Regions from separate parts of the Homo sapiens genome. Here regions 1 and 3 are each linked to region 2. Evidence: fine-mapped expression QTL. A gene starts in region 2. Each other region holds a variant in brackets. All regions are shown on one strand. Distances are from middle to middle.

Region 1 (10,368 bases), 79 kb before region 2:
TGGTGCCCAACCTGCAGAGTGAAACCTTAACTCTGGCTTGGGCCTTAATACCTTCTGTGAACTTGACCCTCTGGCCTGTCCTCTTTCTACTGCCCACTGTGGCTCCAGCTGCCAGCGTCTCCCCAGATCATCGGGGCTTTTTCATACCTCTGTGACTTTGCTCATTCTGTTCCCACTGCCAGGAATGCCTTTCCTCTCCCTCTTGTCAAACTCCTACTCATCCTTCAAAACCCAACTCAATGTCACTGCCTTATCATGCACACCAGCCCCCACTCCCCTCTGCGCTTCCCCAGTCTCCAGTTCCCACCTCTATCACAGCACTTAGGAAAATGCCACTGAGGCTGAGCGCGGTGGCTCATGCCTGTAATCCCAGCACTTTAGGAGGCTGAGGTGGGCAGATCACGAGGTCAGGAGTTGGAGACCAGCCTGGCCAACATGGTGAAACCTCGTCTCTAATAAAAATACAAAAAATTAGCTGGGCATGGTAGCAGGTGCCCGTAATCCCAGCTACTCAGGAGGCTGAGGCAGGAGAATCGCTTGAACTCGGGAGGCAGAGGTTGCAGTGAGCCGAGATTGTGCCACTGTACTCCAGCCTGGGGGACGGTGTAAGACTCTGTCTCAAAAAATAAATAAATAAATAAATAAATAAATAAAAATACAAAATTAGCTGGACGTGGTGGCGCACGCCTGTAGTCCCAGCTACTTGGGGGGCTGAGGCGGAAGAATCGCTCGAACCCAAGAGGTGGAGGTTGCAGTGGGCGGAGATCGTGCCACTACACTCCAGTCTGGACGACAACAGAACGAGACTCTGTTTCAAAAAAGAAAAAAAAAAAAGAAAAAGAAAAATGCTACCAGTGTGTTCAAAAGCCTGCTGCTGCACCCAAGCACCTCAAAGGAAGGCCTGGTGGCATCGTATGCCCCTCCATGCCCAGCACAAGGCAGGAGCCCAATACATGTTGGCCAAATGAATGACAACACCCACAGTCCTTGCCGTGACCTACAGGGCCTGTGTGATCCAGCCCCCAGTGATTCTCTGGCCTCATCTCAAACGCTCTCCCCTGTCACTTCTGTGCTCCACCCCAGTGGCCTCTTTCAGTTCAAATCCAACCTGCTTTTCCCCGCTTCATTCTCCCTTCCTCCCTACACACAAGCTGATCCTTGGGCCTGGAAAGCTTCCTGCCTTTGCTTCATCCACTCCCCACTTGCCCTGGAGACACAAGTCAGTGGTGCTGCCCCCAGGCAGCCCTCCAAGTGCCTCCATGAGGGTAGCACCAGGTGTGCCGTATCCTCTACACCTGGCGTGCAGTGGGAGGGCAACACGTGCTTGTGGAATGGGGCATCAGTGCAAGAATGAGAGACAGCAGTTAAGGATGGAACTTCAGAGCCTTGATCCTCGGGACAGGTTCCACCCTCTCTACCCGACATTCCTTCCTGGGCTTCTGGGCTGTGCACAAACCACCTTCGTGATCCACCTTTGTGATTATTTACTTCGTATTTTTCTTTAAATCAATTCACTTTCTTAGCCTCCTTCTGAGCGATAAAATCATGGTTGGATGTGTTAATTTATATTAACAATTCATGACTATTGGTTTAAAAATTGTTCCTGGGCCGGGCGTGTTGGCTCATGCTTGTAATCCCTGCACTTCGGGAGGCTGAGGCGGACGGATCACGAGGTCAGCAGATCGAGACCATCCTGGCTAACACGGTGAAACCTCATCTCTACTAAAAATACAAAAAATTAGCCGGGCGTGGTGGTGGGCGCCTGTAATCCCAACTACTCGGGAGGCTGAGGCAGGAGAATGGCATGAACCCGGGAGGCGGAGGTTGCAGTGGGCCGAAATCGTGCCACTGCACTCCAGCCTGGGCGACAGAGTGAGACTCCATCTCAAGTAAAAAAAAAAAAAAAAAGAAAAAAAGAAAAAATTGTTCCTCTAGGTAGCTCCTAAAAGGATCCTGTCCAGTTGCACCCGCTTTGGGAACTGCTGCTCCACCCTGTATGATGTTGGGGTTGCTGGCCCTGCGGGTTGTCTTTGGTGCAGGCTCTTTCTGCCAGTGAGCAAAATGCATGTGTTCCTTTCGCTGTGAATTTCTTGACGGGGTAGAAGCCGAGCTCTCAACCCACTTCAACTAAAGCAGCCTTTCTATGGGTTTATGTATTTCTTCCCTGCCTATGTTTTAGTCCAGAAAACGTAAGTTCTTCTAAACTAAAACCAAAGCCAAAACCAAAAAACATGAAGGTTGACAACGATCATGCCAGGGCATAACTAAGTCACAGTCACAGTGTGGAAGACACCCACACTTGTGGGTGGGGAGAGGCTCCTTGGTCTCAGATGTGAAGTGCAAGAGGCTTTCTACTCTAATATGAAGACTCCAGGAGCCTGGGAGGGGCTGTGGCCGGGAGAGCTGAGCACCCGTGGCCGGGTGAGCTGCTGTGTTATCCATGCTCCATCCCCGACCACTGGGTCCTTGGGTAGGCCCCACCCACTCCCACTCAGTGTCCCTGACTGTGAACTATGAGACTGGGAGCTCAGGGACAACCTGGGGCTCATTGTCTGCTCTGAGGGAGCAGTGAGCGAGAAGGGTAGGGACGAGGCTGGGCCTGGGCCAGGGCACACTCTGTCCCCGCAGGCCCCTGGCTTTCTCCCAGGCTTCTGAGGCCTCCGCCCATAGCTGCATCACCCCAGGGTGCTTCCTCTGGGAGCCTTGGACATTGCCCCTCCTGCAAGAACCTCAGAAGGCCCCAATGGGAAGTTGCCTCTCATCAGCCTCTTCAGCCCAATGCAGGGCACACAGGAGGAAGGAGCAGAGGCATTTGTGGGTGGGGGAAGTACACATAGGGTTTGTGTGGGGCCACAGATCCTGCCTGGCAACTCCTGTCTGCCAAATGGGGGGTGATTATCCTGGTGAGACACATGGTAGGTGAAACTGAGCACCTACTATGTGCCCTACCAGGATAATCACCCCCATTTGGCAAATGAGGACACTGAGGCACAGAAAGGTTAAGTGATTTGCCCAAGGCCACACAGCTAGTTAGCAGCAGGTTCCACAGCTTAACTACATATGCCTCCTAAAAATGTCCTCCCATACAGCCCCTCACATCTACTGTGGCCGTGCCAAGGGGAGTTGAAGACCACAGGAGAAGACACGCACCCATTTGGCCAGACCAGGGCTGGGAGCTGGGGGTAGTTCTCAGAAGTAGAACTTGTTAGCCAGGGAGTGCTGGGGGCTGCTTCCAGACACAGGCCTGTGGAGGACCCACATCTTGCCTCCAAGGTGTGACTGGGACCACTGTAGGGCCAGGAGTGACAGGCACCCGGGGTGAAGCCCGGGCTAGGGATAGATGGCTGCCAGCCTATGTGAATAAGGACACCCCAGGGCCTCGGTGTGCGGCTGACACACTGTCCATGCCATGCCTCCAGGGCTGTCCAGGAGCCCCAGCATAGGGTTCCAGATCTCCCACCAGAGCCAGCCCAGGAACTGGACCCAGTTCCAACACCTTGGCTCCTTCCGACATGGGGACCCCCATCTATGTCCTCAGAATGCCTAGCATACAATTCTTACAGCGATGGGGCTGGAGGCCTTAGCTTAAAGGCTGTAGGGGTGTAAGGAGCGCCAGCGTGTAACGAAGGTCTCATTCCCCAGAAGGCTCTGGGGGAAGCACAGGGCAGGCGGCTGGGCTGCCTCAAGACACTGGGCCGGTTTCCCCACCTGTGAAGCGGGAGCAGCGCTGTGGGTGGCCTCCTTGCACTCATAGTGTGGCCTTCGAGGCTAGGGCTCCACAGGAAGGTGGCTGAGAGTGGATGAGGGCCTCATGGGCCCAGCACACCCTCCCACAGGGAGAGGGGAGTCCACCCTCTTCCCTGCCCAGCTCCCCCATACCCACTGGGGCTAGCCAGCCTTCCTGTGGGACAGAGGCTGTCCCCACTTCCTCCTGGTCACCCCTACCCCACACGCCCACCTCCCCTCCACAAAACACATACCCTGAGGGGCCCTCTGGTCCAAGCCTCCCCTTTCACAGGTGAATTAACTGAGGCCCAGTAAGGCCAGGGCGTTTAGAGACTCAGGGATGAAGCCACATCAGACCTCAGGTCTGGCTGAGACCAGGGCTCTGACCACCCCCGAACACGGCCTGGTGGGTTGCAGTCCAGGGGCTGAGGTGGGGGAGGAGTGGGGATCCAGTCACAAAACCCCAGGACATAGCCCACCTGGGCCGTCCCTGCCCACCGCACTGCTGGGGGGGGGGGGTGCGTTCTGGAGTCATTTGGGGAAAGGATCCCATTGGCCCTGTTTAGGGGACCTTTTCCCAGACCAAGAGTGGATTGCAATGGGGCCCTGGATCTGTCTCAGTTGCTCACCAGGGAGGGCGTGGAATAGGCTCCACAACCCCCAAACCTCGGTCCCCATCCATGCCCCGGCATCTTGGCCGGGTTGTAGGAGCGAGGGAGAACGCGACTGTAACGCGGGCGTTGAGCACCTAGAGTTCCCCTTCCTCTTCACTGAGAGCTGCGGCGGAGGCTTTAGACCGAGGAGCGAGATCTAAGGTTAAAGAAAGGGCCTCTGAGCCCAGTGTTGGCCAGAGACCCCACAGGCGGGCCGGGTTCGCCCTTTGCCTTCGGCCGCGCCCCACCCACCAGGGACAGAGTGGCCGCGGCCGAGCCGGGTCCACCCGCCGCAGCTTAGCTCCGCTCCGCCGCCCTCCCCGTCCGTCCTCCCCAGGCTCCCGTCGCCCTCGCCCACCCTGGGGCCCCCTCCCCAGATGGGAGCCCCTCCGACCCCTGCGAGGCCCGCTGGGGACCCACTTGACCGCGAGATCGTAGTGGGAGCTCGGCCAAAAGAATTCTTCGCTTTCCCTGGCCCTCAGTTTACCCATCTGGGAAGAGGGGCGTCGCGGCCGCAGAAGTCCAGCTCCGCACGCGCCAAGCGCTGGGTCTGCAGCTCCCTCGGTTCCCGCGCACCCAACTGCCCCACGACCCCTACCCGCGCCCGCAGCCCCCGCCCTCCCGCCCCACTTGCCTGGGCCGCCGGGCGCTGGAACCTGGACCCTGGACCCTGGCGGGTTCCGAGCTGCGCCGCCGCCGTCCCTGCCCCTCCAGCACTGGACTCCTCCTTTCCCGTCTTTTTAAAGGGA[A/G]GTAACCGGACCCGACCACTACTCCACCCGATTCACCCCTAGCGGGCCGCCCGCCCGCAGCTCCGCCCGGGCTCCTCCCCCGTCCGCCCGCGGCTTCCCGGGAGCCCCCCAGGGCTCCTCCGCTCCTCCGACGGCCCGGCCTTCCCCCCGGGGCCTGGGATGCACCAGGGCTCCTGCTGCCCCCGACGGGGTCCCTGTCGCCGCAGCCCGCGGGACCCGCCGGCCACATCTGGACGGCATCTGCCGCGGGGGAGGGGCTCAGAGCCTCGCCCTGAGTGTCCCGCAGGGAGCCTTGTGCATCCGGGGCAGGAAGCCAGCGCATCCCGTGCAGACGGGTGGTGCAGATAACGGACCCGCCACAGCACGCAATTCAACTTTCTTGGTACCTGGGACTCGTAGTTCAGAAGGCGCAGTAGCACGACCTTGCGAAAAAGCACCGGAGTCGGGAACACGCGCTTCTCATTTTTTTCTTTTTCCTTTATTTGTTTTTGAGACAGAGTCTCGCTCTGTCGCTCACGCTGGAGTGCAGTGGCACTTTCTCCGCTCACTGCAACTTCCTCCTCCTGGGTTCAAGCGATTCTCCTGCCTCAGCCTCCCGAGTAGCTGGGACTACAGGTGCACGCCACCACGCCTGGTTAATTTTTGGAGTTTTAGTAGAGACAGGGTTTCACCATGTAAGGCTCGTCTCGAACTCCTGACCTCAAGTGATCCGCCCGCCTTGGCCTCCCAAAGTGCTGAGATTACAGGAGTGAGCCACCACACCTGGCCTGCGCCTCTCATCTTGATCCTGCTTGCAGAGGTTGTGCAGCCACCGGAGCCCCGCCAGGGTGGGGCTCCCTGTCTCTGAGCAGCTTTAATGGGCGGTACCAGATAATATTTGTATTGGTTCCCTGTGGCTGCCGTAACACAAACATAAAACAACACTAATTTACTATCTTACAAGTTTTGTAAAATCAGAAGTCCAAAATGGGTCTCGCTGGACTAAAAGCAAGGGGGTTGAGGGATACAGCTTTCTTGAGGCTGGAAGGGAACCTGTTTCTTTGGCTTTTCTGGCTTCTAGAAGCTGCCCACATTCCTTGGCTGGTGGCCCCATCCATCTTCAAAGCCAGCAGTGGCCCACCAGTCTCTCACAATCTGTCACTCTGACACCAACTGTTCTGCCTCTTGCTTCCACTGGTGAGCATCTTTGTGATTACATCGGGCCTACCCAGATAATCCAGGGTAATCTTTCTATTTTAAATCAATGGATTGGCAACTTGAATTCCACCTGCAACTGTAATTTCCCTTCGTGGGGTAGCATAACATATTCACAGATTCTGGGCATTAGAACCAGGGCATCTTTTGAGGAGGAGGATATGATTATGTCTACCACAATATTCAAGCTGACTTCCAGACTTTCAGATTTATAATCAAATTTAAGCTCTTCCTTATCCATGATTGGAATCCTTGGGACAGTTAAAGCCTTGCACTGCATGGTCCAAATTGATGGCTTTGTGACTGGCTGTGTTTTATTATTTTACTTGCACTTGCTCTTCTTTTGGAAACTTCATGGAGGACCAGGGTACCTCTAGGTAGCAGCCTTGCTTCTCCTTCCTAATTTGCTCTGTACTCTTAAAAACCAGGTCACAAACATATCGGAATATAGAATTGTGTGTAAAGTAAGAGTAAGTAGGCTGTGAGTGAGACCTCAGAGGCTATTTTGTTTTTTTTCTCTCTCCAGTCTCATGCATGTCTGACTCTCTCCACTATCATATCTGGCATAATCTCCTCCATGTCTGACAAGCCAAGGAAAACACTACATCAGGCCAGGAGAGAATCTTCCCCCCGGAGCTCTGCCTCTCCCACCCAGGCTCCGCGGAGATTTTAAGAGGAGTAAAGATCCTGCTGTGGCAGAAGTGCAACCCAGCTTTCTGGAGGGCAGTTTGGGGTTAGGAATGAAGATCACTTTCAGAAATTTAGCCTGAAGAGGCTGGGCGTGGTGGCTCATGCCTGTAAGGCAGGTGGATCACTTGAGGTCGGGAATTCAAGGCCAGCCTGGGCAACCTGGTGAAACTGTGTCTGTACTAAAACACAAAAATCAGCCAGGTGTGGTGGCGCATGCCTGTGGTCCCACCTACTTGGGAGGCTGAGGCACGAGAATCGCTTGAACCTGGGAGGCAGAGGCTTCAGTGAGCTGAGATCACATGACTGCACTCCAGCCTCGACTACAGAGCAAGACTGTCTCAAAAAAATAAATAAATTTAGCCTAAGGAAATAGAATATTTATATGCAAGGCTTTTCACTGCAGTATTACTTATAATACTGGAAAATCAGAAATAGCCTAAGTGGGCTGGGCGTGGTGGCTCATGCTTGTAATCCCAGCACTTTGGGAGGCCAAGGCAGGCAGATTACGAGGTCAGGAGTTCGAGACCAGCCTGGCCAATGCAGTGAAACCCTGTCTCTACTAAAAATACAAAAATTGGGTGGGCATGGTGGTGGGTGCCTGTAATCCCAGCTACTGGGGAGGTTGAGGCAGGAGAATCGCTTGAACCCGGGAGGTGGAGGTTGCAGTGAGCCGAGATTGCGCCACTACACTCCAGCCTGGGTAACAGAGAGAGACTCTGTCCACCCCCTGTGAAAAAAAAGATGAAGAGACAGTGCTTGCTCCTGCAGAAAGAAAATTCATGGGCTCATAAACATGTAAAAAGATGTTCAATAACTCACTTATTAAGAAAATGAAAATTATAACTACAAAAGATACTATTCTTCACTTACCAGATCAGCAAAGATAAAAAGCAGTTTGGTAGGTCAGGCACAGTGGCTCATGTCTGTAATTCCAGCACTTTGGGAGGCTGAGGCAGGAGAATCACTTAAAACCAGGTGTTCGAGACCAGCCTGGGCCACGTGGCAAAACCCTGTCTCTACCAAAAAAAAAAAATTAGCCAGGCGTGGTGGCACGTGCCTGTAGTCCCAGCTACTTGGAAGAATGAGGTGGGAGGATTGCTTGAGCCTGAAAAGTCAAGGCTGCAGTGAGCCATGATCGTGTCACTGCACTCCAGCCAGAGCGATAGAGTGAGTCCCTGTCTCAAAAAAAAAAAAAAAAGTTTGGTAACACACTATTCGCAAGGGTGGGAGGAAAACAGGCAACCCCCTGCATTGCTGGTTGGTGTGTAGACTGACTCGACCTCAAAAGAGAATATTTGGGCAGTATTTATCAAACATATAAACACATGTCCTGTTTGACTTGGCACTTCCAGAAATTTATCCTACAGATAATGCTCACACGTAAGTGAAAGGAATACACAAGGCTTTCCACTGCATCGCTGCAACATTGAGCCAAAACCACAATGACTTTTGCACCAATCTAATAGCTGGAGACAACCTAAATGTCCACCAATAGAGATGGGATAAATGAATGATTATTGTATGCCCTGCAATGGAATGCATATGGCTATCAAAAATAACTAGGATTCTCCTTACAGAACGCTCCCCAGGACAGGTTGTTTAGTAATAAAACCTAGACGCAGAGCCGTGTTCAAGTCGTTTATCAATTGTACTTAAATGGAAAAAGCACAGAGACACACAATTTGCTTTTATATGTGCACGCGCTGATAACACGAGTTGTTTCCCAGGAAGGAAACTGGAGCTGGAGAACAGGGTGGGAAACGCATTTTTCAGCATATCCTTTTGTTCTCTTGAATCTTGAACCATGTGAATACCGTGTCTAATCAAAATATAAATAAAATTAAAAGTGAAGACGAAAGACCAGAAGATTAACAGGCTTTATAATATAATTTTTTTTTTGAGATGGAATTTTGCTCTTGTTGCCCAGGCTGGAGTGCAATGGCGCAATCTTGGCTCACTGCAACCTCCGCCTCCTGGGTTCAAGCGATTCTCCTCCCTCAGCCTTCCGAGTAGCTGGAATTACAGGCGTGTGCTACCACACCCACCTAATTTTGTATTTTTAGTAGAGACAGGGTTTCTCCATGTTGGTCAGGCTGGTCTCAAACTCCCAACCTCAGGTGATCCACTTGCCTTGGCCTCCCAAAATGTTGGGATTACAGGCGTGAGCCACTGCGCCTGGCTATAATATAAAAATTTGAATGCCAGGTGAGGTGGCTCACATCTGTAATCCCAGCACTTTGGGAGGCCGAGGCAGGGGCATCGATTGAGGCCAAGGCAACATAGCAAGACCCCATCTCTATTTTAAAAACTTTTTTTAACTTGGCTGGGCGCAGTGGCTCATGCCTACAATCCCAGCACTTTGGGAGGCTGAGTCAGGTGGATCACCTGAGGTCAGGAGTCCCGGCCAACACGGTGAAAATCTGTCTCTACTAAAAATACAAAAATTAGCCGGGCATGGTGGCAGGCACCGGTTATCCCAGCCACTCAGGAGGCTGAGGCAGGAGAATCACTTGATCCTAGGAGACAGAGATTACAGTGAGCTGAGATCGCACCATTGCACTCTAGCCTGGGCGACAAGAGCAGAACTCTTTCTCAAAAAAAAAATAAATAAAAATTATAAACTTATATTTGTGGATGAAATGATTTGATGTCTCAGGTTTGCTTTGACCTAATCCAGAAGGGGTGGAGAAGTCAGGAATGCTCAATACAGCATGATTTAAAATAGGGGAAAATCAGAAACAATTAGATGTTCAGTAATGGAGGATTGGTTAAATAAATTATGGGCTTCTATATGAAAAAAGTACTATGCTACCATTCTAAAAACAATAAATCATAGCTGGACGCGGTGGCTCACGTCTGTAATCCCAGCACTTTGGGAGGCCGAGGCAGGTGGATCACCTCAGGTCGGGAGTTCGAGACCAGCCTGACCAACATGGAGAAACCCCATCTCTACTAAAAATACAAAAATACCCGGGCATGGTGGCGCATGCCTGTAATCCCAGCTACTCAGGTGGCTGAGGCAGGAGAATCACTAGAACCCAGGAGGCAGAGGCTGCGGTGAGCCGAGATCGCGCCACTGCACTACAGCCTGGGCAACAAGAGCGAAACTCTGTCTCAAAATAATAATAATAATAATAATAATAATAAATCATATTTTAGAAGTATTGAAAGAGTACTTTCTGTTTTGTTTTGCTAATAATCGTGGAGTGGGAAGACCTTTTTAGGTATATGAAATCCATACTCCACAAATGAAAAGACCGCTACAGTTGACTACATAAAGGTAAAAATCTCTGCATTGCACAACCACCACAAGCAAAGTCAAAAAGAACCCTCCATAACAGGGGAAAATTAGCTAT
Region 2 (10,368 bases):
ATGGAAAGTCTCTCGAACAATCTGCTGTTGAATTTCTTCTGGCTATGAAACAAAAAGATAAGTGAATCAGTGGGCAAGCCTGAAAAACTACATCCCATCCATGGGGATGGACAAGGGAAGAAGTGTTTCTAAGCTGGGAACATCTAAACATTTAGTACTTGTTTCTAGAAATGATAAAAATGATGAGAAAAAATAGGAGTGAATCTATGAAAGATGGGTGACAATGCTCTGATACAGGAATTAAGATAGGGTATATTTACCTAAATATCTAAGTCACTAACCATTACTGTCCTATAGGTAAGCTGATATTTAAACAAGAAAAGGAACATTGATAAACTCTCATACAAAGTCAGAGAATAACTGGAAGGCCTGATCCTGAAATATTTTGTCTTCCCCTGGAAAACATCTATGACAAAGATATAATAAATCTCAACAGGTCTAACATTTTAAGAAGGTCAAGATGTGGGCCAGGCACAGTGGCTCACGCCTGAAATTCCAGCACTTTAGGAGGCAGATCACAAGGTCAGGAGTTCGAGACCAGCCTGACCAATATGGTGAAACCCCATCTCTACTAAAAATACAAAAAAAAACAAAACAAAATAAAACAAAAAAACAATTAGCTGGGCGTGGTGGCGCATGCCTGTAATCCCAGCTACTCGGGAGGCTGAGGCAGGAGAACTGCTTGAACCCAGGAAGCGGAGGTTACAGTGAGCCGAGATCACGCCACTGCACTCCAGCATGGGCGACAGAGTGAGACTCCATCTCAAAAAAAAAAAAAAAAAAAAAAAAAGGTCAAGAAGTAATCATGTAAATGTTTTAAAAAGTTATATTGGCAAATACAGCTGCCATCTTTTGTACTGGTAATATAGATACTACATATAAGATGCTGTGTTACTCACCAACAAAGTATTATTGAGAAAAATAGATTACAGATTAAAATTTTGAACAGTTACAAATAAAATGTATTATTATTATTTTTAGACAGAGTCTTGTTCTGTTGCCCAGGCAGTGGTGTGATCACAGCTCATTGCAACCTCCACCTCCGGGTTCAAGCGATTCTCCTGCCTCAGCCTCCCCAGTGGCTGAGATTACAGGTATGTGCCACCATGCCCGGCTAATTTTTGTATTTATAGTAGAGATGGGGTTTCACCATGTTGGTCAGGCTGGTCTTGAACTCCTGACCTCAAGTGATCCACCTGCTTTGGCCTCCCAAAGTGCTGGGATTACAGGTGTGAGCCACCATGTCTGGCCTTATTTTTTCACTTACTACGTGCATAAGAAAGCTCAACTCTGATGAAATCACTTTGATAACTCACCTTTGATTTCTAATTATACATATGAGTTTCAGAAGAAGTATGGTTAAAAGGGTAAGAGAGGGAGAAACCAGCAATTAAGACAGATAATAACTTAAAGCTCTAGAGCATTGCTTCTCAAATCTTCATTTGCAATGAATCAGCTGTGAATGCTGTTAAAATACAGATTCGGATTTAGCAGGTATAGGTTAAGTCCTGAGATGCAAGTCTAGTAAGCACCCAGGCAATAACATTTCTGCTGGTCTGGGGACCACACTTTGAGTAACGAATCATAAGAAAACCTTCAAATTGGACTTGCCCCAAGAGTTAGAAAATAGGTTCAAGTAATTTTAATCCCTTTCTTTCTATAGCCCTGAATTTAGCTTTGAAATGGTTATTTAAAAGAAACAGAGAGGGGAAAAAAGGGAAAACGTAATTGTGGGGAAATTACTTTGACTCACATGGGTATGGAATGGCTCACAGTATTTACTGACTGAATGAAAACTTGCTAATCATTGGTCACTACAAATTTGAGTAAATTAATCACTATTTTCCTCATTTCCATTTAAAGAACAAACAAAGCTCACAGATGACAGGATGCTGTAGGAGACGAACTCTATATATGCAAAATACAAAACATGCTAAGCATCAGCACTTTTTAAAACTGACAAAGACATCTTTTGAACTAAAGCCTTTTATCTGACTCTGGGGGAAGTGGCAGCAGTGGGGAAGTGGTACGAAATGATGAGGCTACCTAATTTCTAGTTCAATAAAAAGGTAAACTACCAATTGCTTACATGCCTCAGTGATTTTAATAACCCCTCATATCTTTTTAGTACTCTGTAGTTTTCAAGGTACTTTCATCCATGAGCTCATGAGGTCTTATAAAAATCCTATGATCCAAAGATACACGAATGGGCAATAAGCACATGAAAAGATGCTCAACATCATTAGTCATTTTGGAAACTGAAATCAAAACCACAATGAGCTGGGTGCGGTGGCTCACGCCTGTAATCCCTGCACTTTGGGAGGCCAAGACGGGCAGATTACTTGTGGTCAGGAGTTCGAGACCAGCCTGGCCAACACAGCGAAACCCCATCTCTACTAAAAATACAAAAATTAGCCAGGCATGGTCGTGGGCACCTGTAATCCTAGCTACTCAGGAGACTGAGGCAGGAGAATCACTTGAACCCGGGAGGCAGAGGTTACAGTGAACCGAGATCACGCCACTGCAGCCTGGGAGATAGAGTGAGATTCAGTCTCGGAGGGAAAAAAAAAAGCCACAGTGAGATACCACTTTACACCCACTAAAATGTCTTTAACCAAAAATAAATAAATAAATAACGAATGGCAGGGATGTGAAGAAACTGGAATCATTATACATTGCTGATGGAAATGTAAAATGGTGCAGCCACTTGGAAAATTTGTCAAATAGTTTGCAGTTTCTCAAAATGTTCACCACAGTTACCATATGATCCAGCAATTCTACTCCTAGGTATATAACCAAGAGAAATGAAGTCATAAGTCCACATAAAAACTTGCACAAGAATGTTCATAGCAGCATTAATTAGAAGAGCCAAAAAGCAGAAATATCAACTTATAAATTGACAATCAAAATATGGCATATCCATATAATGGAATATTATTCAGCAATAAAAGAAATGAAGAACATCAGATACATGCTACAACATGGATGAATCTTGAAAACATTATACTACATGAAACATGGCAGACACACAAAAAACCACTTATTTATGATTCCATTTATAGGCAACGGAATAGGCAAATTCCATTTGCCATTCTGGAACTGGCAAATTTAGAGGGAAAGAAACTCTCTGGGGCTGGGAGAGTCATGGAGAAATAGGGAGTGACTGCTAATGGGCAGAGGTTTCTTTTTGGGGTGATGAAAATGATCTAAAATTGATTGTGGTGATGGTTACACAGCTTCTGTGAACATGCTAAAAAACACTGAATTGTCCCCTTTAAATAAGTAAACTGGGGCCGGACACAGTGGCTCATGCCTGTAATCCCAGCACTTTGGGAGGCTGAGTCCGGTGGATTGCTTGAGCCCAGGAGTTCAAGACCAGCCTGGGCAACATAGAAAGACCCCGTCTCTATAAGTAAATAACATAAAATAAATAAGTAAACAGTATGGCATGTTAGTTTTATCTCAGTAACCCTGTTAGAAAAAAACTAGGGGGGAAATTTGCATACACACAAATGCAAATACAAATAGTTACGCTGAATACTCATATACATACATATATATATATACTTTTTTGTGTGTGTGTGTGATGGAGTCTCGCTCTTTCGCCCAGGCTGGAGTGCAGTGGCGCTATCTTGGCTCACTGCAAGCTCCGCCTCCCGGGCTCACGCCATTCTCCTGCCTCAGCCTCCTGAGTAGCTGGGACTTGGAGGTGCCCGCCACCGCGCTTGGCTAATTTTTTGTATTTTTAGTAGAGACGGGGTTTCACCGTGTTAGCCAGGATGGTCTCCATCTCCTGACCTCGTGATCCGCCCGCCTCGGCCTCCCAAAGTGCTGGGATTACAGGCGTGAGCCACCGCGCCCGGCCTGAATACTCATATTTTTACCTCGATGTAATCTACTTAATAAAATGTAATCTAGCTTTAAAAATCTTATGAAGGAGTAAAATTATTTTTTCATTTCTAATTGACAAAAGACAATAAAAGTCTGAAAAGGGTTTATTAACTTGTCAACAGACGCAAGAGTAGAAAAGGTGGAGCTGAAGCCTGAACACGTTTTCTGGCTCTTTCCCCTCTTCAGTTCCACCAGTCCCCCAATTATGTAACATTTTGAAACCCTGCCATGAAGAAATATAATCTTCGAAGACAGGAAGCAAATACTGATGTTTATGTGTTTGCAAAGGAACGTGTTGGGAAAATTCAAATTTACGTAATCACTTATTGAGCCCTTATGCGGCAGCATTTATAATTTCTCATCATTTTTCCACTTTTAAACTGATTTTCTTCAACCCTAAGAGTGAAGGGTATCTAGTCTCTGGAAAGTCCCAGCCAACACTGAAGCAAAATAATTCCAAAAAAAAAAGAACTTTTCCAGTTCTGGCTATAACAAAAACTTTCAGAAACTTAATATTTCTTCCTCATGAAACTGTGGTCAACAACCAAAAAGATGACAGAATGTGACTTCAATCACTCAAGTTCTCATCGAGGCACACTCCCCACTGTCGCTTCTATCTCGTTCCCAGAGACCCACGGGAAAATGTCACAAAATGGCACAGAAATGCCAGGATCAAGAAAAGGGTCAGCGAGAGCGGGGCAGTAGGGCGGGAGACAGAAGGCCTGGCACCAGCCTGCGCCTAGATTAAATGCTTAAGTAGGGCGAGGGTCATGCTCGGTGCAGGAGCCCCAGGTGACCAAAGAGCGGTGCCCCCGGGCGCCGAGAGGCCAAAGAGGAGGGAAGACATAGTGGGCGCCCTGAAGGGGCGTGGTGAAGCCGGGCCGCACTCACGAAACGCTGGTAGAAGCGGACTAGCCGTGGCTTCCCATGGTTGTTGAAAACCAGAATCGCCTGAATCATCTTTGCCAGCCACGGTTCTCTCAGCACCGGCTACTCCCAGAAAGCTCCTCCTTCCGCCACAACACGATCACTTCCGGTTGGTGCGCTGCTGAGAGCGGCACTCGGAAACTTGGCCCCGGCGCTCACGAGCCCTAGCACCCAAGGGTCCGGCCTCTCTGACGCCTTGGAGGGCAGGTGCGGATGCCGAGGAGAGTGGTCACCTCGGCCAGCGTTGGTTGGCCAGTCAGGATGCGAATCCGGATCTATGTCCCTCGCCCAGACCGACGGCTGGCCCCAGAAGCCGAAACGACCGTCAGCCGGGTTGCCAAAACGGAGAGGCGGCGGGAGCTTGCTTTTCTCACCGCCCGCTCCAAATCATGCACTCCCGCCATCCCCTTAGCGCTCGCAGAACGTTCCGCGGAGTGGAGACGCCGGTCATTCGGCCGTTCGTCGGTTATGGAACATTTCGTTCATTTTAATTTTTCAGTATTATAATGCTGCAGTGAATTACGTAGCTGTCTCTCCGTGCAGATGGGCTGTTCCTCTATGGTAGACGGTGAATGGTGGAATTAAGGAATTTTTAGTGCATTTCCATTTAAAATCCCAAATCGATCAAGTTCTTATTTTTGTTTGTTCTTTTAATGACCCAGTGTGGGTGAAGTGGAGCATGTCCGTATACTGCAGATGGAGCAGCGGATACAGATGCAAATCGATCCAGAGGACTGTTTGGCGATATGGATCAGAAGCCTTTAAAATATATAACAGTCCGGGCGCGGTGGCTCACGCCTGTAATCCCAGCACTTTGGGAGGCCGAGGCGGGCGGCTCACTTGAGGTCAGCAGTTCGAGACCAGCCTGGCCAACAAGGTGAAACCCCGCCTCTACTAAAATTACAAAAATTAGCCGGTTGTGGTGGCGCGCGCCTGTAGTCCCAGATACTTGGGAGACTGAGGCAGGAGAATGGCTTGAACCCGGGAGGCGGAGGTTGCAGTGAGCTGAGATCACACCACACTGCACTCCAGCCTGGGTGACAGATATATAACATATATATATATATATATAAAACATTAGACTCAGCGTTTCCAGCTCTAGAATTTATGATAAAATGATTGTGGATGTGTGAAAAGATTTAGCCTGAGGAACATACATTTCTGCCAGAGTATCTTCAGAACAGTAAAAAAAAGAAGAAAAAAATATATATCTCAGCAGTGTTATTACAGGGGAAAATGGGAAGAAAATTATTACAAAAATGAGAAATTGGTTAAGTGCATTGTTCTACATTGAATATGAGAAATATTAAATAGATAATAAAAATCATGCTGGGAAAGATTTATGATACGGAAGTGTTCATGACACCTGTTAAGCTAAAAGATTACACAAAGTATGTACAGGGACAACCCACTTTGCTCAAGATTGGAGGCAAATACACCAAAATATGAATCATGTATCTGATGGAATGGCAGAGTCAGGGTGTTTGATCTGTACAGGACCCTGGAACCACACTGCCCTGATTCAAAGCATGGTTCTGCGGACTGCCTGGGCACCCTGGGCAAGTTTCCCCATCTGTAGAAAAGGTGTAATATCAGTTTCCTAAACTGGAAAACTGGAAAATGAGTCTACTGACTTCAGACAGTTGTTATAAACACAAAGGGAGTTAGTATAATATTTGTAAGCACTTGGACAGTGCATGGCACATAACTGAGTACCACATAAGTGATTTAAAAACATCTTTGGGTGGTAGGATTATCAAGTTTTCCTTTTTTTCCTTCAAAGAAATATGTACTACTTTTGCAGCCAGAGTTCTGGGGTTTGCTTGTTTGTTTTTCAGAGATAGGGTCTTACCCAGGTTGGAGTGCAGTGGCACAGTCATACCTCACTGTAACCTCAAACTGCTGGCCTCAGGCAATCCTCCAGCCTCAGTCTCCCAAACCGCCACCACGCCTAGTCCAGTTTTTTGTTTGTTTGTTTGTTTGTTTGTTTGAGATGGAGTCTCACTCTGTTGCCCAGGCTGGAGTGCAGTGGCACAATCTTGGCTCACTGCAACCTCCGTCTCCCGGGTTCAAACAATTCTCCTGCTTCAGCCTCCCCAGTAGCTGGGATTACAGGCACATGCCACCATGCCCAGCAAATTTTTGTATTTTTAGTAGAGATGGGGTTTCACCACATTGGCCAGTCTGGTCTCAAACTCCTGACCTCAAGTGATTCACCCATCTCAGTCTCCCGAAGTGCTGGGATTACAGGCGTGAGCCACTGCGCCCGGCATGGCCCAGTTTTTAAATAAATAAAAACCAAAAGTCAGTTGCACTGAAACTTGACAAAATGTTTAAAATGTTGAGGAAGAATATCAAAGAAAATTCTGAAACAGAATTATGAAGAAGAACTAGCTCTGCCAACTATGAAAACCTACTTTGATGGTTCAAATTGTAATTATAGGAAGAATAACTGAAATATTATAAATAATTTAGGCATAAAATAATTTTAATATGTGATGTAGGAGTGGGAAGGAATTCAGTAAATACTATTAGGATAACTGGTTAGCAATTTGAAAATAAGTAGTTAGGTATAAAACCAGATAATAACCTAAACAGAAGAAAGCGAAATTGAATAAGATCCAAAAATCTGTATTAGCTTAGAAGCAATAAAAATCACAAAACATCAACAGATATATAAAGTTTTTTTATAAAAAGAATTATTTAATGGAAAAATCGTTGTTAAAATATGGCAAATGGTTATATTTAAAATGCAAATAACTGATAAACTAAAAAGATAACACTCCCCATCTCCCCAGTAGATAAATGGACGAAAGAACGAATAACAAAGGGAGAAATACAGCTAGGAAAAGGAAAAAATGTTTAAGCTCACTATAAGTGGGGGAAAGGCAAATTAAAATATATTCAAATATTATTTTCACCTCATCAAAAATCATTTTAAAAATGTTTTCATACCCAATTCTCACAAGGGCAGCATAAAAATGGTTCTCCCCTACATTGCTGGTGAAATTATGGTTTAGAACAACCCTTTTGGGAAGCAATTTGGCAATATAACAAGAACTTTGCAAAAGATTTCTAGATTCTCAGTAATATGACTCCTGGGCATCTGTTCCTAAAGAAATAACCCAAAAATATAGTTAGAGGTGGGGAATTAAGAGAACTATATAATTTTCAACATTTTTGGAAACATTAATTCTGTTAGCCACACAGGGATCAATTTTAAATATCCAAAAGTTGGACCATGACAGAACTATCCAATGGTAGCAATCTTAAAAATAATGGTTACAGGTGGGCGTGGTGGCTCACGCCTGTAATCCCAGCAATTTGGGAGGCTGAGGAGTGAGGATCACTTGAGATCAGAAGTTCAAGAAAAGCCTGGCTGACATGGTGAAACCCCGTCTCTACTAAAAATACAAAAACTAGCCGGGCGTGGTGGCGTGTGCCTGTAATCCCAGCTACTCGGGAGGCTAAGGCAGCAGAATAGCTTGAACCCGGGAGGCAGAGGTTGCAGTGGGCCAAGATCGCGCCATTGCACTCCAGCCTGGGCAACAAGAGCAAAACTCCATCTCAAAAAAAAGAAGAAGAAAAATGGTTACAAAGACTATGCAGCAATATGGAAAGTGATTATGTGTGGGCATAGTGTTACAACAACTACCTACAAGCATTACAGATGTTTCAGAATTTGTCTAGCAGGTTTTCCAGTTTGTACCAGAAAACCCCTATGCAAGTTTACAAAAACCAAAACTATGTACACAAATTACATGCTAAAAAACCCAAATACTAAAAATTATGAACATGACTGAGTGAAACTATGAGTCTTTTTTTCCCCTTTAAATATATTTCCTAAATGCATTGCTATTTGTGGAGATTAGTTTAGTCCCTCAAAAAATTTTCCCATAATGTCCGGCACTGTGGCTCATGCCTGTAATCCCAGCACTTTGGGAGGCTGAGGAGGGTGGATCACCTGAGGTCAGGAGTTCGAGACCAGCCTAGCCAACATGGTGAAATCGCATCTCTACTAAAAGTACAAAATTAGCTAGTCGTGGTGGCGCAGGCCTGTAATCCCAGCTACTTGGGATTACAGTAATCCTCCTGCTGAGGCAGGAGAAACTCTTGAACCTGGGAGGTGGAGGTTGCAGTGAGCCGAGATTGAGCCATTGCACTCCAGCCTGGGCAACAAGAGCGAAATTCCATCTCAAAAAAAAAAAAAAGAAAGAAAGAAAATTTCCCATATGAATGAAGCTCAGAGGATTTGCTTGGTTCTGTTTGAAGATACAAAATAACTGTAATTTCCATCATTAGGCCCATGGTGAAAGGCAAGCTGGACACTGGTGGAAGAAAAAAAAATTCAGATGGGTAGAGGAAAGGGACCTCCCTCCAAGAAAAGAGTCCAGGCAAGGCAATGCAAGTGGGGGAGTGACCTGCTCTGGGAACAGCCAGCCCCTCCATGGGACCAACACAGCCCTTCCCAAACTGTTTCTCACAACAGCTGTCCCATGAAATGCTCCTCACAAAAACGGGTTCTCTGACCAAAGAAATGTGGGAAATACGTAATCATACCCTGTCCTGAAGAGTTACAGTAAATGTTAGTATAGTTAAAGCTCCAAGAAATCCTACAGAAATGTTTGAGTTTAACACTACGTTTGTTCCAACAAATTAGATCATAGAAACACCACCACTTTTTGTTTCTAGCCCTATTAACAACCTGTGGAAGATCCCTCAGGCTGGTCTGAAAGAATCGCCCCAGAGCTCTTAAGGAGGAAGCGAGCCGAGAAAGGAGGGTTGTGACATTGTGATGAGCTCTGAGTTGTATTAAGGAATTTGAACTTTTCATCTGGGGAGTAATAGGATCCAGTCTAGCTTCCAAAAGCTGCCCCTACCAGCCACATGGGGGCCCCTGAAAGCAGGGTTTCAGCCCTGCTGTAGTTCCTCAACTCCCCACAGGTGTATCTAGGAAGGCTTCTGCCCTGGCTGGGCCTGCCCTAATGCCTGAACCAGTCCTGACCAGGGCAGGAGGTATGGCAAAATCAGGGGCTTTGGCCTCACCATCTGCCCATGCAGATGCCTATGCCACAGCAGCTTCCTATTTTCTCCCTTCCTAGTCCCTAGTCCTAGGGAATAGGATTTTACCTCAGTGTCCCTACCTGCTGAGCCTGGGACCCTATTCTTTTTTTTTTTTTTTTTTTTGAGACAGGGTCTCACTGTGTTGCCCAGGCTGGAGTGCAGTGGCAATCTCAGCTCACTGCAACCTCCACCTCCCGGGTTCAAGAAATTCTCATGCCTCAGCCTCCCAAGGCGCTGGAACTACAGGCATGTGCCACCATGTCCGGGTAATTTTTGTATTTTTTGGTAGAGACGGGGTTTCACTGTGTTGATCAGGCTGGTTTCGAACTCCTGACCTCAAGTGATCCGCCCACCTCGGCCTCCCAAAGTGCTAAGATTACAGGCGTGAGCGACTGCACCCAGCCCTGGGGCCCTGTTCTTATCCTCAGCCCACTTGGTTTTCCCATCCCTAGGGAGCTAGTTTCAGTTCTCTATACTTCTTAGCCA
Region 3 (10,368 bases), 23 kb before region 2:
CGTCTCAAAAAAAAAAAAAAAAAAAAGTCACCATGGAGGTATACTCCACGTTGCCTAGACAATGAACTAGCTTAGACTAGGGGGTTGGGAGGCTACCCCTTCTCCCAGTGAGAGGGGCTGCACCCAAGCACAACTTCCCACAGCACCTACAGCTGTCTTCTCCAGGTGTGTATTATCCCACAGGTCCCTAAGTTTCCAGGTGTTGGGCAGCTGGCATTCCCAGACAACTTCCTTTTTTTTTTTTTTTGAAATGGAGTTTTGCTCTTGTTGCCCAGGCTGAAGTGCAATGGCATGATCTCGGCTCCCTGCAACCTCTGCCTCCTGGGTTCAAGTGATTCTCCTGTCTCAGCCTCCTGAGTAGCTGGAATTATAGGCATGCACCACCAAGCCCAGCTAATTTTGCATTTTTAGTAGAGACGGGGTTTCTCCATGTTGGTTAGGCTGGTCTCGAACTCCCGACCTCAGGCCTCCCAAAGTGCTGGGATTATAGGCGTTAGCCACCGCACCCGGCCCCTAGACAACATCTATAAGCAGCTGGCACACAAATACAGATTTCGTGGTGTCTAAGCATTCTGCCTATCTCTCCACTAGCAAAGCTACTCTCACAGGTGCCTGATAAAAAAGACAGCATTGGAGGAGGTGGGTGATGGGAGTCATTCCAGCAGAGACACCTCAATACACCTCTCCATGGGCTCTTCTCTTGCTTTGAAAACTCCCCCTTTTCCCCTCTCCCTCTCCCTCTCCCTCTCCCCCTACCCCTCCCCCTCCCCCTCTCCCTCTCCCTCTCCCTCTCCCCACGGTCTCCCTCTCATGCGGAGCCGAAGCTGGACTGTACTACTGCCATCTCGGCTCACTGCAACCTCCCTGCCTGATTCTCCTGCCTCAGCCTGCCGAGTGCCTGCGATTGCAGGCACGCGCCGCCACGCCTGACTGGTTTTGGTGGAGACGGGGTTTCGCTGTGTTGGCCGGGCCGGTCTCCAGCCCCTAACCGCGAGTGATCCGCCAGCCTTGGCCTCCCGAGGTGCCGGGATTGCAGACGGAGTCTCGTTCACTCAGTGCTCAATGGTGCCCAGGCTGGAGTGCAGTGGCGTGATCTCAGCTCACTACAACCTACACCTCCCAGCCGCCTGCCTTGGCCTCCCAAAGTGCCGAGATTGCAGCCTCTGCCCGGCCGCCACCCGGTCTGGGAAGTGAGGAGTGTCTCTGCCTGGCCGCCCATCGTCTGGGATGTGAGGAGCCCCTCTGCCTGGCTGCCCAGTCTGGAAAGTGAGGAGCGTCTGCGCCCGGCCGCCATCCCATCTAGGAAGTGAGGAGCGCCTCTTCCCAGCCGCCATCACATCTAGGAAGTGAGGAGCGTCTCTGCCCGGCCGCCCATCGTCTGAGATGTGGGGAGCGCCTCTGCCCCGCCGCCCCATCTGGGTTGTGAGGAGCGCCTCTGCCCGGCCGAGACCCCGTCTGGGAGGTAAGGAGCGTCTCTGCCCGGCCGCCCTGTCTGAGAAGTGAGGAGACCCTCTGCCTGGCAACCACCCCGTATGAGAAGTGAGGAGCCCCTCCGCCCGGCAGCTGCCCCGTCTGAGAAGTGAGGAGCCTCTCCGCCCGGCAGCCACCCCATCTGGGAAGTGAGGAGCGGCTCCGCCCGGCAGCCACCCCGTCCGGGAGGGAGGTGGGGGGGGTCAGCCCCCCACCCGGCCAGCCGCCCCATCCGGCCAGCCGTGCCATCCGGGAGGGAGGTGGGGGGGTCAGCCCCCCGCCCGGCCAGCCGCCCCGTCCAGGAGGTGAGGGGCGCCTCTGCCCGGCCGCCCCTACTGGGAAGTGAGGAGCCCCTCAGCCTGGCCAGCCACCCCGTCCGGGAGGGAGATGGGGGGGTCAGCCCCCCCACCCGGCCAGCCGCCCCGTCCGGGAGGGAGGTGGGGGGGTCAGCCCCCCGCCTGGCCAGCTGCCCCGTCCGGGAGGGAGGTGGGGGGGTCAGCCCTCCGCCCGGCCAGCCGCCCCGTCTGGGAGGTGAGGGGCGCCTCTGCCCGGCCGCCCCTACTGGGAAGTGAGGAGCCCCTCTGCCCGGCCAGCCGCCCCGTCCGGGAGGGAGGTGGAGGGGTCAGCCCCCCGCCCGGCCAGCCGCCCTGTCCGGGAGGGAGGTGGGGGGGTCAGCCCTCCGCCCGGCCAGCCGCCCCGTCTGGGAGGTGAGGGGCGCCTCTGCCCGGCCACCCCTACTGGGAAGTGAGGAGCCCCTCTGCCCGGCCAGCCGCCCGGTCCGGGAGGGAGGTGGGGGGGTCAGCCCCCCGCCCGGCCAGCCGCCCCGTCCGGGAGGGAGGTGGGGGGGTCAGCCCTCCACCCGGCCAGCCGCCCCGTCTGGGAGGTGAGGGGCGCCTCTGCCCGGCCGCCCCTACTGGGAAGTGAGGAGCCCCTCTGCCCGGCCAGCCGCCCGGTCCGGGAGGGAGGTGGGGGGGTCAGCCCTCCGCCCGGCCAGCCGCCCCGTCTGGGAGGTGAGGGGCGCCTCTGCCCGGCCGCCCCTACTGGGAAGTGAGGAGCCCCTCTGCCCGGCCAGCCGCCCCGTCCGGGAGGGAGGTGGGGGGGTCAGCCCCCTGCCCGGCCAGCTGCCCCGTCCGGGAGGTGAGGGGCGCCTCTGCCCGGCCGCCCCTACTGGGAAGTGAGGAGCCCCTCTGCCCGGCCAGCCGCCCCGTCCGGGAGGGAGGTGGGGGGGTCAGCCCCCTGCCCGGCCAGCCGCCCCGTCCGGGAGGTGAGGGGCGCCTCTGCCTGGCCGCCCCTACTGGGAAGTGAGGAGCCCCTCTGCCCGGCCACCACCCCGTCTGGGAGGTGTGCCCAACAGCTCATTGAGAACGGGTCAGGATGACAATGGCGGCTTTGTGGAACAGAAAGGCGGGAAAGGTGGGGAAAAGATTGAGAAATCGGATGGTTGCCGTGTCTGTGTAGAAAGAAGTAGACATGGGAGACTTTTCATTTTGTTCTGCACTAAGAAAAATTCTTCTGCCTTGGGATCCTGTTGATCTGTGACCTTACCCCCAACCCTGTGCTCTCTGAAACATGTGCTGTGTCCACTCAGGGTTAAATGGATTAAGGGCGGTGCAAGATGTGCTTTGTTAAACAGATGCTTGAAGGCAGCATGCGCGTTAAGAGTCATCACCAATCCCTAATCTCAAGTAATCAGGGACACAAACACTGCGGAAGGCCGCAGGGTCCTCTGCCTAGGAAAACCAGAGACCTTTGTTCACTTGTTTATCTGCTGACCTTCCCTCCACTATTGTCCCATGACCCTGCCAAATCCCCCTCTGTGAGAAACACCCAAGAATTATCAATAAAAAAAAAAAAAAAAAAAGAAAACTCCCCCTTTCCTAGTAAAATCTATCCTTGAATCCCTGAATCTACACCTGAGATGTTAAGAAATTCATTTGCAGCCTGGTGAGCAACAGGTGGCATCTTCAAAGAACCCACTTTGCACACTAGGTGGTAACTTCGAAAGTAACACCTTGTATTTAACAATTTGGTTGTTTTTTTTTTTTTGAGACACAGTCTCGCTCTGTTGCCCAGGCTGGAGAGCAGTGGCGCGACCTCGGCTCACTGCAACCTCCGCCTCCCGGGTTCAAGCGATTCTCCTGAATAGCTGGGATTACAAGCGTGCACCATCACGCCTGGCTAATTTTTGTACTTTTAGTAGAGACAAGGTTTTGCCATGTTGGCCAGGCTGGTCTTAAACTCCTGACCTGAAGTGATCTGCCCACCTCAGCCTCCCAAAGTGCTGGGATTACAGGTGTGAGCCACGACGCCCGGCCTGTATTTAACAATATTATTTTAAAATCATAACAATAAGGCCTACAGAAGGCACCTCTCCATTCCCCCTATATTTTCAAGTCTCTTTAATACTTGAAAGGGACTCTAGTTCCTCTAGTACAAAAGGGAACTAGATTTGAGCTATGGCTCTCCTTGACAGAAGTTGCAAAATAGCAAATCTTTAACATATGAAAAGTACAAAACAACTCTAAGTGCTTGCAAAGAAAGGGTGCTAAGAGATCGCTGAAGTTTCCAAAAAGTATACAACCCTTTCATATGAAAGGGAGGGTGACTCAAAAGCATCAGTAAATACTGGAAGCCCCGTGAGGTTGTCAGGGAGTCCAAAGTTAAGTATCTAAAGAAGGAAAAGGGTTCCATGATGTTCCTGCACTAGGATGCTGATAGAGTCACAGAGCCATGTCAGATGGTGAGAGACAAAACTTTACTCCATTCTAATGTCATCCAAACTCAAGAATGCATTCACTACATTAGCCTGGAAAGTGGGGATCTGCCAACCTCAACAGAGTCAACTAAGACTGAAGACCCTATTGAAAAACAACAAGAAAGTCCTTTAGACAGCAATGCTAGCAACGATGGATCTAAAAACTCCTACTTCATCATGATGAAAAGGTTAATAAAGGATCATGGCTTAGCAATGAGCAGCAGTCTCCTAAAAAATCATCTCTCTCCAAGGGCCAGGGATCATAATGACAACAATCAGTTGAAGAAAAACCAGGACCAAGCAAACCAAAGACGCACCAGTAAACTGCACAGGGGACAGCATGTGGTAAGTTGAATAAAATAAACATGGCAATTCCTATTCCCTTGCTGGCTATTGCCCAAGTTTAATTTGGCATATGAGGACATAGGCCATGTCACAGTTATCCTAGCAAAACAAATCTGAGAACACCTACTTGGGGCCATTTTAATTCTGCCTCTGATAGTCTACCTTCCTATAGAATATCACCTGACCTTGAATTACATTACAGATCTCTTAGTCACTATATTACTCTTTAGGAAAGATATAAATTTTACTATCTAAGTCAAAGCCCCTGCGTCATGATTATTCCAAAGTTTCATTGTCACTGGCCTATGACTAGGAAACTAATTTTATAATCAGCATAAAACTATTTATCTCACCTTTGGCCAAGTAGCCAGTGACATCATTCTCCTATATCAAGAAATCAGTCTGTGAACAGATGAACCACGATATAGGCCTAGTAATAATCTTATGCACGTTAAAACTGTTAGTAGATCTTAGCAAAAACAAAACAAAACCCAAACTATTAAATCTATTAAATAAAACATGTTCTAGGACTATCTTAAGAGTAAAAAAAAACAAGAAACAATATGAAGATGTAGAGGTGGCTA[C/G]AGATGCCCAAGGCTCTTGGTTTTCTAGTAACCCTAGTTTGGAAGAGAACTGCAAGAGAATATACCTTATCCATATGGAAGATCAAATCCAATTCACACACATTTTCGAAACACTTATCCAGAGTTTCCACAAAAACCTAGAAAACAAGGAGAAATAGATAAAGAAGAGAAATAGGAACACATTCACAGCTTTATCAATGTCACATCTGAAAGTAAAAGGGGCTGTCACAATACTATTTACTTTATGATAAATCTCAAAAATTAAAACACCTACCTTTTGTCTCCAGCATTAGCTGATCACCCTACTTATCTCGATTTAGAGGGAATAATCTAGGACAGGAAAACCTTGTTTTCAGCATAGCAACACAACCAGCAGACACATGTGGCTCTTTCCCCCTTTATAAGATGCTAATTTATGGTAGGGCATGGTGGCTCATACTTACAATCTCAGCACTTTGAGAGCCCAAGGCAGGAGGATCACTTGAGGCCAAGAGCTCACGACCAGCCTTGCTAACAAGACGAAAACCCATCTCTACTAAAAATACAAAAATTATCTGGGTGTGGCGACACGAGCCTGTTATAGTCCCAGCTACTTGGGAGGCTGAGGCACGAGAATAGCTTGAATGAGAATCATTTGAGGTGGAGGTTGCCATAAGCAGAGATCGCACCACTGCACTCCAGCCTGAGTGACAGAGTGAGAGTCTCTCAAAAAAAAAAAAAGAAAAAAGAAAAAAAATTACATAAAAGAATAACAAATTAAAAAAACCAACTACTTACAATACTATGTCCTCAATGAATACATGTACAAAAAATTTTTCATTATTACAGGGTTAACATAGCTGTGTTTTAATTTCAGCCAAAATTAACTTCAAAACATCTTCCCTTTTTAATTTTTTTGGTCAGTTATTTAGCCTACAAAATACCTTCCTATGAATAAATTTAATTGACGTGTTTACAACTTAAAATTTTTTTTTAAAAGCCCTGAGCTTACTTCTCTATAGAACCTTTTAACTTTTAATAAAACATAACAGAAAAGTGTACAAATGACAAGGGCACAGTTTAATGAATTTTCAGAATGAACACACCATGTAACTACAACCTAGGTATCTATCTATAACTGTTTAATTTCTCTCAGACAATGACCTCATTTAAACAATCTCATTGTCAGCAGTGTCATGAATTGTTCGGCACTGCATGAAAATGGGTCTTACTTGAGGCCAGCAAGTGACAGAGACCAGGCACACCGTTCCACTGTAGCACAAGATGGGTGCTCATAGGCAAACCACCCTGCAGCGGCTGCTGGGGAGACAGACCCACTTGCCATGAGGAACCAACGCACACTATTGGAGCTGATCCTGCTCTGTCTCTTCTCTATGTAAGTAAAGCTTTATCCAGTGTTTGCACTTTTTCCTTGCCGACTCTGATACCAAGATGCAATGGGCAAGAGCATTTAGATTCCTTTCTTGAGACTGGTAACCAGTGCACTGTATTTTGCCAGATACCAACCATTTTGGAAAACTATGACATTATGTATGCATGCTCTATGATCTAGGAATTCTACTCCCAGATAACATATCTAACAGATATATACATGTATGCCAAAAACCACATACAATAATTTCATATTAGTGCCATTCATAAATCTTTACATTTTTAACAGTGCCAGAATATTTCACTATAAGGACACATAGTTAAATGGGTCTATTTCTCAATCACTATGCTGGGTACTTGGTAAGCCCTTATAATCCTGCAGTTCAAGTCCTTCAGTTCTGGGAAATTTTATCGAATTATTTTGTTGAGAATTCCCTCCTTTCCACATTCCTAATCAATCTTTTTGGAGCTGCTTATATTCAAGTATTGGACCTCTGTCTGTCTTCTTTTTTTTTTTTTTTTGAGACAGACTCTCGCTCTGTTGTCCACGCTGAAGTGCAGTGCCACGATCTTGGCTCACTGCAGCCTCTGCCTCCTGGGTTCAAGCAATTCTCCTGCCTCAGCCTCCTGAGTAGCTGGGATTACAGGCATGCACCACCACGCCTGGCTAATTTTTGTATTTTTAGTAGAGACGAGGTTTCACCATGTTGGCCAGGCTGATATCCAATTCCTGACCTTAAGTGATCCCCCTGTCTTGGCCTACCAAAGTGCTGGGGTTACAGACGTGAGCCACTGTGCCCGGCCTCTGTCTTATTTTCTCATCTTTTCTCTCCCATTTTCCATCTCTGCCCATTCTGAGACAATTGATTAACTTGATTTTCTAATACTTCAGTTGAAGTGGGTTTTTGTTTGTTTCCATTTCCTCTCATTTTTTATTTCTAAGAGACCATTTTGTTCATTTTGTGTGAGCAACAAGGCTGTGAGTGTTTTTGTTTAGCACCCATTTAGCAATAAGACATAAATGGGTCTTATTTTATTTCTAATTAATAAATGGGTCTTATTATTATTTAAAATAAATGTCTTATTTCTCTGTGGCTTTTTTTTTTTTTTTTTTTTTTGAGACAAGGTCTCACTCTGTCACCCAGGCTGGAGTGCTGTGGTGTGATCTCAGAACACTGCAGCCTCAGCCTCCCGGGTGCAGGTGATTCTCCTGCCTCAGCCTCCTGAGCAGCTGGGACTACAGGTATGTGCCACCATGCCTGGCTAAAATACTTCGTATTTTTAGTAGAGATAGGGTTTCACCATGTTGGCCAGGCTTTCTCTGTAGCTTAAGAATAGGGTTTTGGGTTTTTTTTTTTTTTAAACTGTTTTCCTTTCTTTATATGGTGTCCATTTTTAAGTTGCTTTTTATTGTTTGTTCATTTTATCTCCTTCTTCTATGTTAGAGGTTTTCCGCAGATGTCTGATAATCCTTTGTTTTTCATTTGTTACAAGAATAAAAGGCTGATTGAAAGCTCTACAATCATGGATATTTCTTGCCCACCTCCATGGTTATTTGCTTCCCTAGCGAAATCTGTCTCACGTGTCCATGTGAAGAGACCACCAAACAGGCTTTGTGTGAGAAACAAGGCTGTTTATTTCACCTGGGTGCAGTCTTTCTAGGTATCAAAATTCATTGTAAAGCTTTGTTAACTAAAATAGTATAATACTAAGGCTGGGTGAGGTGGCTCATGCCTATAATCCCAACACTTTGGGCAGCCAAGACAGGAAGATCCCTCGAGCCCAGGAGTTTGAGACCAGCCTGGGCAACATAGCAAAACATCGTCTCCACAAAAAAATAAAAATAAAAAAATTAGCCAGGCATAGTGGCACACACCTGTAGTCCCAGCTACTTGGAAGGCTGAGGTGGGAGGATTGCTTGAGCCCAGGAATTCAAGGTTGCAGTGAATTATCATTGCACCACTGCATTCCAGCCTGAGTGACATACCAAGACCTTGTCTCTAAATAAATTTTAAAAATAAAATAAAAGTATAATTCTAAGATGGGAATATAGATCAGTGGGGCAGAATATAAATTACTGAAACATACATGTTTATAAAATGCAATTTTAAAAATAAGAGTCGTATTTTAAGTTGGTGGGGAAAAGACAAGCTAACTGATAATGTTGGAACAGTTATCCTTTGGGGGAAAAATAAAGTTACATATTTCAATGCAGACATAAAAATATCTAACAGATATTAATGAGCTAAATGTAAAAAAATAAATTAAAAAAGCAACGGCAGATCCCCTGGGTGCCATCCAGGCCCCCGGAAGGAGCTATTCAGTCTGTGGCAAAGCTTTGAGGTGGCTGGTACTGCTAAAAGCGGCACGTGGAGGTGCCCCCTAGCGGCCTGAGCTCTGTTCTGCGGCAGCCAGAGCACATGCGAGGAGAGCCAGACCACAGTTTGCAGCAGCACCATCCCAAAAGGCTGTTTTCATTAAAGATGTTTCATGAAACTAAGACTGGGTTCTCAAGATAGGGTAGTTATCCAGGACAAGATGGACTAGCCCCAGAAAAAGACATCCCCAGATAGTGGGTGGAAAAAGAACTGTCAGATGCATCTGTTTTTCTTACTCAAAATATTATTCAAGATCACAATCAAGGTCAAGAGAAAGAAAACAAGAAAGAAAACGAAGGACGAAAACACAAAGCGCATGCTGATGGGCAAAGAGGCTGAACTGAAGACATTGCAGACTCAGGTAGGAAAATAATAAGCCTATTTCATGATGAGGCAAGAAGACAGGAATCCTACAACAAATCCTCTAAGAAATACACTTCTGAGGAGCATAATGACAAAGAACATTATTCTGATAAAGGAAGAGAGGGACTAAATTCATCTGAAAATGGGCTGGGCGCAGTGACTCACGTCTGTAGTCTCAGTACTTCGGAAGGCCAAGGTGGGCAAATTGCTTGGGCTCACAAGTTTGAGACCAGCTTGAGCAACATGGCAAAGCCCTGTCTCTATAAAAAACACAAAAGTTAGCCAGGCGTGGTGGTGTGTGCCTGTGATTCCAGCTACTCGGGAGGCTGTGGTGAGAAGCTTGAGCCGGGGAGACAGAGGTTACAGTGAGCTGTGATTGTGCCACTGCACTCCAGCCTGGGCAACAGAGTGACATGCTGTCTCAATAAATAAATACATTCATCTGAAAATGATGAGGACAGACACAAACACAAAGAAAGCCATCAAGAAGCAGAAGTCACTCAAGATACAGGTCTCGTGAAAGGCATCATCGTAGTAGAGGGAAAAGAAGTAGTCTCAATCCAGAAGCAGAGAGAAGAACGATCATGATCTAGAAGCAGGAAAAGAAAACCATGGGCTGGACATGGTGCTTCACACCTGTAATCCCAGCACTTTGGGAGGCCAAGTCAGGCAGATCACCTGAGATTCAGGAGTTTGAGACCAACCTGGCCAACATGGCAAAACCCTGTCTCTACTAAAAATGCAAAAATTAGCCAGGCGTGGTGATGCATGTCTGAGGTCCCAGCTACTTGGGAGGCTGAGGCAGGAGAATCACTTGAACCCAGGAGGTGGAGGTTTCAGTGAGCTGAGGTCACACCACTGCACTCCAGCCTGGCCAACAGAGTGAGACGCCGTCTCCAAAAAGGAAAGAAAAAAAAAAGAAAGAAAGAAAACCATGGATCAGATCTTGCTCCTGTTCAAGATAAAAACTACATCTGTGTTGCGTGTGAAAAATAAGTAAATAAATAAATATGACATGCATAGGAAAGAAGCAGAAGTAGTACAGGAAGCAGAAGACAAGAGAGAAAGAAGAGCATTGAGAAACTAAGATTTAGCAGAAGTT

Evidence for each region. PIP is the estimated chance that this variant, and not a neighbour inherited with it, causes the effect.
Region 1: its variant is fine-mapped to the expression of AP3S2 in whole blood (TOPMed, PIP above 0.99).
Region 3: its variant is fine-mapped to the expression of AP3S2 in whole blood (INTERVAL, PIP above 0.99). The same link has a PIP of 0.9 or more in esophagus muscle.

What each region holds. Positions count from the first base shown.
Region 1 is chr15:89,809,759-89,820,126 of GRCh38, forward strand. It overlaps ANPEP (alanyl aminopeptidase, membrane), which reads right to left and starts at 5,094. Exons shown (of 21, transcript NM_001150.3): 1 at 5,014-5,094. RefSeq lists an enhancer at 4,663-5,162, promoters at 5,030-6,184, 5,030-5,518 and cis regulatory regions at 5,133-5,138, 5,390-5,518, 5,426-5,429, 5,428-5,457, 5,475-5,477. The variant A/G (reference allele first, on the strand shown) is at 5,129.
Region 2 is chr15:89,889,099-89,899,466 of GRCh38, forward strand. It overlaps AP3S2 (adaptor related protein complex 3 subunit sigma 2), which reads right to left and starts at 4,896. Exons shown (of 6, transcript NM_005829.5): 1 at 4,783-4,896; 2 at 1-42. The coding sequence starts at 4,851. It overlaps ARPIN-AP3S2 (ARPIN-AP3S2 readthrough), which reads right to left. Exons shown (of 10, transcript NM_001199058.2): 6 at 1-42. It overlaps ARPIN (actin related protein 2/3 complex inhibitor), which reads right to left. Exons shown (of 6, transcript NM_182616.4): 6 at 5,908-10,368. It also overlaps the pseudogene RNU7-111P. RefSeq lists enhancers at 3,185-3,934, 4,927-5,076, 5,431-6,178.
Region 3 is chr15:89,866,256-89,876,623 of GRCh38, forward strand. ARPIN-AP3S2 (ARPIN-AP3S2 readthrough) reads right to left here. Exons shown (of 10, transcript NM_001199058.2): 8 at 5,220-5,291. It overlaps AP3S2 (adaptor related protein complex 3 subunit sigma 2), which reads right to left. Exons shown (of 6, transcript NM_005829.5): 4 at 5,220-5,291. Among named protein-coding and RNA genes, the nearest start is that of MIR5009, 13 kb to the right of the region's middle. The variant C/G (reference allele first, on the strand shown) is at 5,155.